Linked DNA regions of Homo sapiens. The protein of the gene in region 1 purifies or fractionates together with the protein of each later gene. This does not show direct contact. Each region holds a gene or a part of one and is shown in the gene's direction. Other genes may lie near its edges.

Evidence for each region. The genes of interacting proteins can lie anywhere in the genome.
Region 2: the proteins of MAP4K2 (region 1) and RCC2 purify together in Homo sapiens (affinity purification with mass spectrometry, with the first as the bait; one study listed by BioGRID). This does not show direct contact.

The regions. Positions count from the first base shown.
Region 1 is NC_000011.10:64,789,705-64,793,350, reverse strand, and holds part of MAP4K2 (mitogen-activated protein kinase kinase kinase kinase 2), read left to right. Parts: intron 1-928; coding exon 929-987; intron 988-1,075; coding exon 1,076-1,179; intron 1,180-1,264; coding exon 1,265-1,442; intron 1,443-2,888; coding exon 2,889-2,957; intron 2,958-3,076; coding exon 3,077-3,163; intron 3,164-3,391; coding exon 3,392-3,462; intron 3,463-3,565; coding exon 3,566-3,621; intron 3,622-3,646. UniProt on the Homo sapiens protein: Serine/threonine-protein kinase which acts as an essential component of the MAP kinase signal transduction pathway.
Region 2 is NC_000001.11:17,426,140-17,429,785, reverse strand, and holds part of RCC2 (protein RCC2), read left to right. Parts: intron 1-586; coding exon 587-680; intron 681-3,646. UniProt on the Homo sapiens protein: Multifunctional protein that may affect its functions by regulating the activity of small GTPases, such as RAC1 and RALA. Required for normal progress through the cell cycle, both during interphase and during mitosis.

The DNA.
Region 1 (3,646 bases):
GCCCCGGGCCTGTTTTCCCATCTGTGAAATGGGCCGTGTGCAGTCTGTGCAACCTGGTGGGGCTGGAGCCTGCATCCTCCCCAGCCCCTCCATGCTCTCATTTCTTCATTCCTTTTTTCTTTTTCTTTTTTTTTGAGACCGAGTTTCACTCTCATTGCCCGGGCTGGAGTCCGATGGCACAATCTCGGCTCACTGCAACCTCCGCCTCCTGGGTTCAAGCAATTCTCCTGCCTCAGCCTCCCAAGTAGCTGGGATTACAGGCACGCGCCACCACGCCTGGCTAATTTTGTATTTTTAGTAGAGACAGGGTTTCTCTATGTTGGTCAGGCTGGTCTCGAACTCCCGACCTCGGGTGATCTGCCTACCTCGACCTCCCAGAGTGCTGGGATTACAGGCGTGAGCCGTTGCACCTGGCATCATTTCTTTCTTTATACCCTGCCTTTACCTGACAAGGACTTTCAGTGACTCAAAATAGGTGGAAAGTCCTAATATGGGATGATAGGAGCTGGCCCTCTGTGAGCACACACGATTCCCAGCACTGCCGAGAGCACCTCCCCTGTATTAACTCATGAAGCCTTCACTGTGACTCTCTGGGGTGGGGCCCGCCATTATCCCCAATCTACAGATGACGAAACTGAGGCATGGAGAGATTAAGTGGCTTGCCTGGAGTCACACAGAGCTAGAAGCAATCCTGAGACCCAAACCCCTGGCCTGGATGGAGACACTCCCTCCTGGCTTCAGGGCTGGGAGACTGGCTTCAGATCCTCCACCTTTCCCAGCTGTTCTTGGGGCAAGTTACTCTGTGTCTCTGAGTCTCAGTCCCTTACTTGTAAAGAGGGAAGCTGATAGTGCCCACCTCATAGGGCTCTGCAGGGGCCTTGCCCATGGATGGCATCCCAGACACAGGCCCTGGTTATCACCCCTACAGGCGCTTTGCTCTGTCCACCAAGATTCCTGACACCAAAGGCTGCTTGCAGTGTCGTGTGGGTAAGAAATGGGCTGGGCGGGGTGGGGCGGGGCCTGGTGGGGGGCAGCGCAGGCCCAGCCCGGTGCCCACTGCCTGCTCCCCTGCCAGTGCGGAACCCCTACACGGGTGCCACCTTCCTGCTGGCCGCCCTGCCCACCAGCCTGCTCCTGCTGCAGTGGTATGAGCCGCTGCAGAAGTTTCTGCTGCTGAAGGTGAGGGGCGGTGGGGGGAGGCCCAGGGCACCCTCAGAGCTCTGGGGGGAGAAATGGAGACCTGAGCATCCCTGCTGCCCCCTAGAACTTCTCCAGCCCTCTGCCCAGCCCAGCTGGGATGCTGGAGCCGCTGGTGCTGGATGGGAAGGAGCTGCCGCAGGTGTGTGTTGGGGCCGAGGGGCCTGAGGGGCCCGGCTGCCGCGTCCTGTTCCATGTCCTGCCCCTGGAGGCTGGCCTGACGCCCGACATCCTCATCCCACCTGGTGAGCAGAAGGGCCAGGCTGCTGGGGGTGGGTGTGTGTGCATGAGAGACCGAGGGAGGGAGGCAGGGAGGGCCAAGGCTCCCAAACTAGGCTCCCCACAGCCAGTGGCTCCACAGAGACCTTGAGGGCTGCCATGTGGGGTCTGGGGCCCACAGCCTCCCTTCAACAAGCTTCACCTGGGCTTCCATAAAAGGGTTCATTAGACGGAAGGGCTTGGCAGCTAAGAAAATCCTGGCCAGGCCGGGCACAGTGGCTCACGCCTGTAATCCCAGCATTTTGGGAGGCCAAGGAGAGAGAGGGGCTTGAGCTCATGAGTTTGAGACCAGCCTGGACAACATGGCGAGACCCTGACTCTACAAAAAATTAGCTGGGCATGTTGATGCACGTGTGTAGTCCCAGCTACTTGGGCTGAGGTGGGAGGATCACTTGAGCCTGGGAGACAGAGGCAGTTGTGAGCCATGTTCGCGCCACTGCACTCCAGCCTGGGTGACAGAGTGAGACCCTATCTCAAAACAAAAAACAAAAACAAAAACAAAAACTGGTCAACATTGCTCCGGGCTGCAGGGAAGAGGCAGATCTGGCAAGGCAGGGCCTAGAGGCCCCATTCTCAGCCAGGAAGCAGGACTCCAGGTGTTGTGGCAGCTTGGGGTGATAATGAGCAGTGATGGGTAAGGGAGAAAGGAGGGCGCACGTAGTTAAGGCACCTGGTGCCAGGCCCTGAGCCAGGGGTCTCACACACAGGATTTTATTCTTTATTTATTTTTTTATTTTTTGAGACAGAGTCTTGCTCTGTTGCCCAGGCTGGAGTGCAATGGCACGATCTCGGCTCACTGCAACCTCTGCCTCGTGGGTTCAAGCTATTCTCTTGCCTCAGCCTCCCGAGTAGCTGGGATTACAAGCATGTGCCACCACGTCCGGCTACGTTTTGTATTATTAGTAGAAATGGGGTTTCGCCATGTTGGCCAGGCTGGTCTCCAACACCTGATCTCAGGTGATCCACCCGCTTCGGCCTCCCACAGTGCTGGGATTACAGGTGTGAGCCACTGCGCCCAGCCCAGGATTTTATTCCTGATCCTCATGATAGCCTCTCAAGGCAGTGCCATCTTGTCTGTGTTATGAGGAAACAGAGGCTCCGAGAGGTAAAGTGATTTGTACCAGGTCACACAGTGACTGGGTCACGAGGCCTGGTCCCCTTAAACCTGGAGCCCTCCCGTGGCTCCCCGTGACTCCTCCTCCACTCCCCATGAGCCCTAGGACGGGTCACTCATCCTCTCAGAGCCTCAGTTCCCAGCCCTGGAGGGAGATGAGGTTTCCCAGCCCCACAGGGCTGTTGTGAGGCTGACGTGCCCTCATGGCCAAGGGCTGTCTGTAGCCTGGCCCCCGTATCCTCTTGGGGTTGGGGGACTGGTGGCTCAGCCAGGCCATGTCTCTCTTCTCTGCCTGCAGAGGGGATCCCAGGCTCGGCCCAGCAGGTGATCCAGGTGGACAGGGACACAATCCTAGTCAGCTTTGAACGTGAGTGCCCTGGGGGCAGGGCTTAGGGCAGGGGACTATGGAGGTAAGGCGACCACGTGGGTCTGCCTTCCCAGAAGGGAGCCTCCCCGTCCCCACTCACCAATTCCTTCCCTGTGCAGGCTGTGTGAGGATTGTCAACATGCAGGGCGAGCCCACGGCCACACTGGCACCTGAGCTGACCTTTGATTTCCCCATCGAGACTGTGGGTGAGTGAGCCAGAGGTGGGGTGCAGGCCTTTCCCTGGCCTGGAGCACGTTGTTGCTCAGGGGCCTGGGGCTGGCGGTAGGATGAGGAGGCAGATCCCCTAGCCCCTCTCCTGAGCCATCCTGGTCACCTGAGGTCAGTGAGGACCCCTGTGGCCCAGACCCAGGCTCAGGCGTGGCTGAGGGGGTGCCAAGATGGGTGCAGGGCTGATGGTGGCCTGGCCCCCATAGTGTGCCTGCAGGACAGTGTGCTGGCCTTCTGGAGCCATGGGATGCAAGGCCGAAGCCTGGATACCAATGAGGTGAGTGGGGCCCAGGGACCTTGCTGTCCCCTGCCTTGTGGTCCCTACCTCTTTGGAAAGGACCTACTGGAGTGGCCTCAGTGCTTCCCACCTGTCTTCCCAGGTGACCCAGGAGATCACAGATGAAACAAGGATCTTCCGAGTGCTTGGGGCCCACAGGTAGGCGGTGGTACCCTAGCCTCCC
Region 2 (3,646 bases), on another chromosome or scaffold:
AAGGCCGCCTGATTCAGACCCCTGCATACCCACCAAAGCTGTGTTCTGCCTGGTCTCCCTTCAGTGGAGAAATCGAACCTTGTTCTCTACTGTTTTCTTCCTGAGTCCCCATGGAAAGGCTCTCGGCAGAGTGGGCAGCAGAAGTGATGTGAGGCTCCTAAGGTTTGAGGTCGCAGGCCGTGCTTGCCATGTGAAATAGAGACTTGGCCCTAGGATGAGCTGGATTTAACGCCCCTGAGTGTCCGGCAGGCTTCCTGCAAATACCTCTGTACATCAGTTTGCGAAGGAGGCATGTATTTGGGTTTTTTTTTTAGTGTTTTGCAAAAGCTATTTTAAAGGGAAGTCAAAGGATAAAAATGAGCCTGGGCTTAGCAAGTGAGCGGCTGTGGGCAGGTTTGGGGTTGCCCGCATTGCCACTTGCCGATGAGGGAGGGGAGTGTGGGGAGACTCTGTTCGTGTGGAGGTCACAGGTGACATAAGGGCTAACTGAATGATTTTCTTTCGTTTCGTGCTGTCATTGGACAGCCTTGGAAAGCTAGGTGCAGACTTACACACTAATTCTTTTTTCCTTTCTCTGTCTCTGCAGAAACTTGAAGGGTCAAAGTGCAAAGGGCAGCTTTTGATTTTTGGGGCAACCAACTGGGACTTGATTGGTCGAAAAGAAGTGCCTAAACAGCAAGGTATGAGAATGGTGCCTCAAAAACCCATTGAGTGCTTCTTAAGTGCTAGGTTCTGTTGACCACCTGCCTGGTAGGTATTCCCTTCATTTACAAATGCATTTTCACAGAGGCCAAGTGACTTGCCTGAGGCCACACAGCCACTGTAGTGATGAGCTGGATTTGAACCCTAATCTTAGTCTTTTAAAGGCACAATTTTGAAGTGACTCACTAATTCCGTTAAGATTAATCAGGAAAATACAAGTAGTATCCTCAAATGAACATTGCCACCTTTTCCATCTTCCCTCTCACCTCACTTGTTTTCATTAAAATGAAGAGACCAGGTCTGTGAGATGGTGTCAGAATGTCCTAGACATTTGTCAAATGTCAGGTGTCAAAATTTCAGGCATTGCAGAAGAGTCCACGTTTCTTTGCAAGCTGCCAAATTGTTGCAGGAACTGGTTTGACAGAACAGTCTGGAGCGGGGGAAAGCAGAGAGGTCCTTAAGAAGTAATGTTTTGTCCCCAGTTACCTTTGGAAAACTGGTGTCTTAAGGGAAAAGGCCCATCCAGGAGAAGGAAGGCTGGCATGTAGCCAACTTTTATGGCTTCTTGATTTCATCTGGAAAGACTCCCAAAGTGCTTTCCAGCATTGCTTTGCCCCATGAACAAATATTTGCACGCTGGCTCGTCTTGGCACCTTAAAACAGGGGCGTTGGAAATCACCTTGTTCCATGAAAACACCTGGGGGCCAGCTGAATTAGAAATGGGTTTAAGTTGCAGGTAGCAGCAGCGCGTTGTTTGGAAAATGCCCAGCCTTCAGGCCCAAGCCAGAGGGGGCCACGTCCACATGGTGGCTTTTGTCCCAGGGAAGCACCTCCTGGTCTACAGTAACGTAAGCCCAGGTGCTGATGGCGCCTTGTTGCCAGTCCTGTGCCCGTGTTGCATCATTTCTCAAAGCCGTTCTTCAACTGAGCAGCCCAGTTGACATTGAAGATACAGAAGCCCAGGGAAGGGCAGTAAATACCAAAGGAAGCGAGTGGCAGGGCCAGGGTTGGAGTCCCACTCTCTAGTTAACTCTGTTGCCTCCCGCGCATGTATGTTGCTGTAGATCTGGTGAAAACCAGCAGCCTGGATGTCTTGGTTTTTGCAAGATAGCACCACAGCAAGCCACACAGTAGCTCTGTGATTGGGACCAGACCCCAGGGATCCGGAGGCCGTGGGAATTGACTTCTCAGTCTGACCGCAGAGCCTGGGACTGCTGCAGGGCGTTTAATTTGACTTGCTCCCCCTCCCCCACCCCTGCCCGGTCCCTCCAGTCCCTCCAGCCCTTCCTTGGGAGGCCGGAAGAAACCCAACCCGGCTCCTCAGGAGCCAGTGGCATCCTGGGCACTGCAGGGAAAGATGCTTTGGTAAGTCCAGGAGCATCTGACCACCTGAGACTCCCCTTGGCCAAGCAAGTTCAAGTGTGGCACCGCACCCTTGCCTGGCGTCCCGTGGCCTCCTGTGTTGCGGCACAGGGTCGTGATGATACTCGTCAATCATGCCATCATTTTGTCTTCATGGCAAAGAGACCTTGGGTTTCTCTTTATCCCTTCCGAGTTTTGTTTAATACAGTTCCTGAATCTTAATTTAGGTGCCACCTCCTTGAGTTTTTCTTAAGTTTTAATATAGACCATGAGGCTTTTATTTTTGGTTTGCTCTTTCCCCAGGAAATTGTTGATGTTCCTCTTCCTCCTTTCAGGGGAGGTGTCTGCAGGTGTGCTGCTTCAGGTGCCATGCGGGATCGGCTGGCCCCTGCCCGCCTGCGGCCAGGAGTCTTGCCCACTTGCCCCCACACCTGAATGAGGGAGCATGTGGTGCCCTCTGCTGAGGGCGGAGGGTGGGGCTGGAACGTACTTCACAGATACTTTCTAGGCAGCCAGGCGCTTGATAGAGACATTGTAGCCTTTTTATCAGTTCCTACATTGGATCAGTCTTACACACTCGATTTGGCAGTGGCTAGCATTTCAGGATAATCACCACAATCCTGGAAATACTCTTGAGCATCTCAATTTCAAAAATTAAGATTGCTGGGCATGGTGGCTCACGCCTGTAATCCCAGCAGTTTGGAAGGCTGAGTCGAGTGGATCACTTGAGCTCAGGAGTTAAAGACCAGCCTGGCCAATATGGTGAAACCCTCTCTACTAAATATACAAAAATTAGCTGGGTGTGATGGCACACGCCTGTAATCCCAGTTACTCGTGAGGCTGAGGCAGGAGAATCAATTGAACCTGGGAGGCAGAGGTTGCAGTGAACCGAGATTGTGCCACTGCTCTCCAGCCTGGGCAACAGTGAAACTGTCTCAAAAAAAAAAAAAAAAAAAAAAAAAGAAAAGTAAGAAATTGGCCCTGCCCCATCCTCTAATAGGGTGTGAAGGGGGGTTTGTGAGGAAGATGCTGTGGTTTTCTTTCCCATTGAGTGCTCGCTGCGTGCCAGGCATTTGTGAGGGTCTAGGCTGGAGGGAGCCTACAGCTTTAGCCCTGGGTGGCTTCTCATGGAGTGGGAGGGCTGGGGGGCTCAGGAAGAGAGCTGTGGTGGGCTGAGCAGGGCTGAGCAGAGCTGGGGCAGGGGAGCCCTGGGGGAAGGAGATTTCTCAGTGGATGTTGCCCTGGAGGGCTTCCCCAAGGAGGCGAACTGGTGCTTGACTTGAGCTTTCAGGAAGAAGTAGGAGGTGGGAAGGACATTCTAGGGGAAGCGAATATATGGGTGGGTGTCAGGGGAGTCATGAAGTGGCTGTCACACTGGACGGGTGAGAAGGGAGCAGGAGGTGGGGTGATACTGTGTGAGCAGTGCCCCTCCTCAAGGGGCCTGATGGAGCTGCTGGGAACATGAAGACAGGACACTCGGGTCACCCCTCAGAAAGAGCCTTCTGGCCCAGGGTGAAGGCCGGAGATGGAGGGCAGGAGAGCCTGGGAAAGGAGGGGCAGGCGGCAGGGAGTGAGGAGGAGG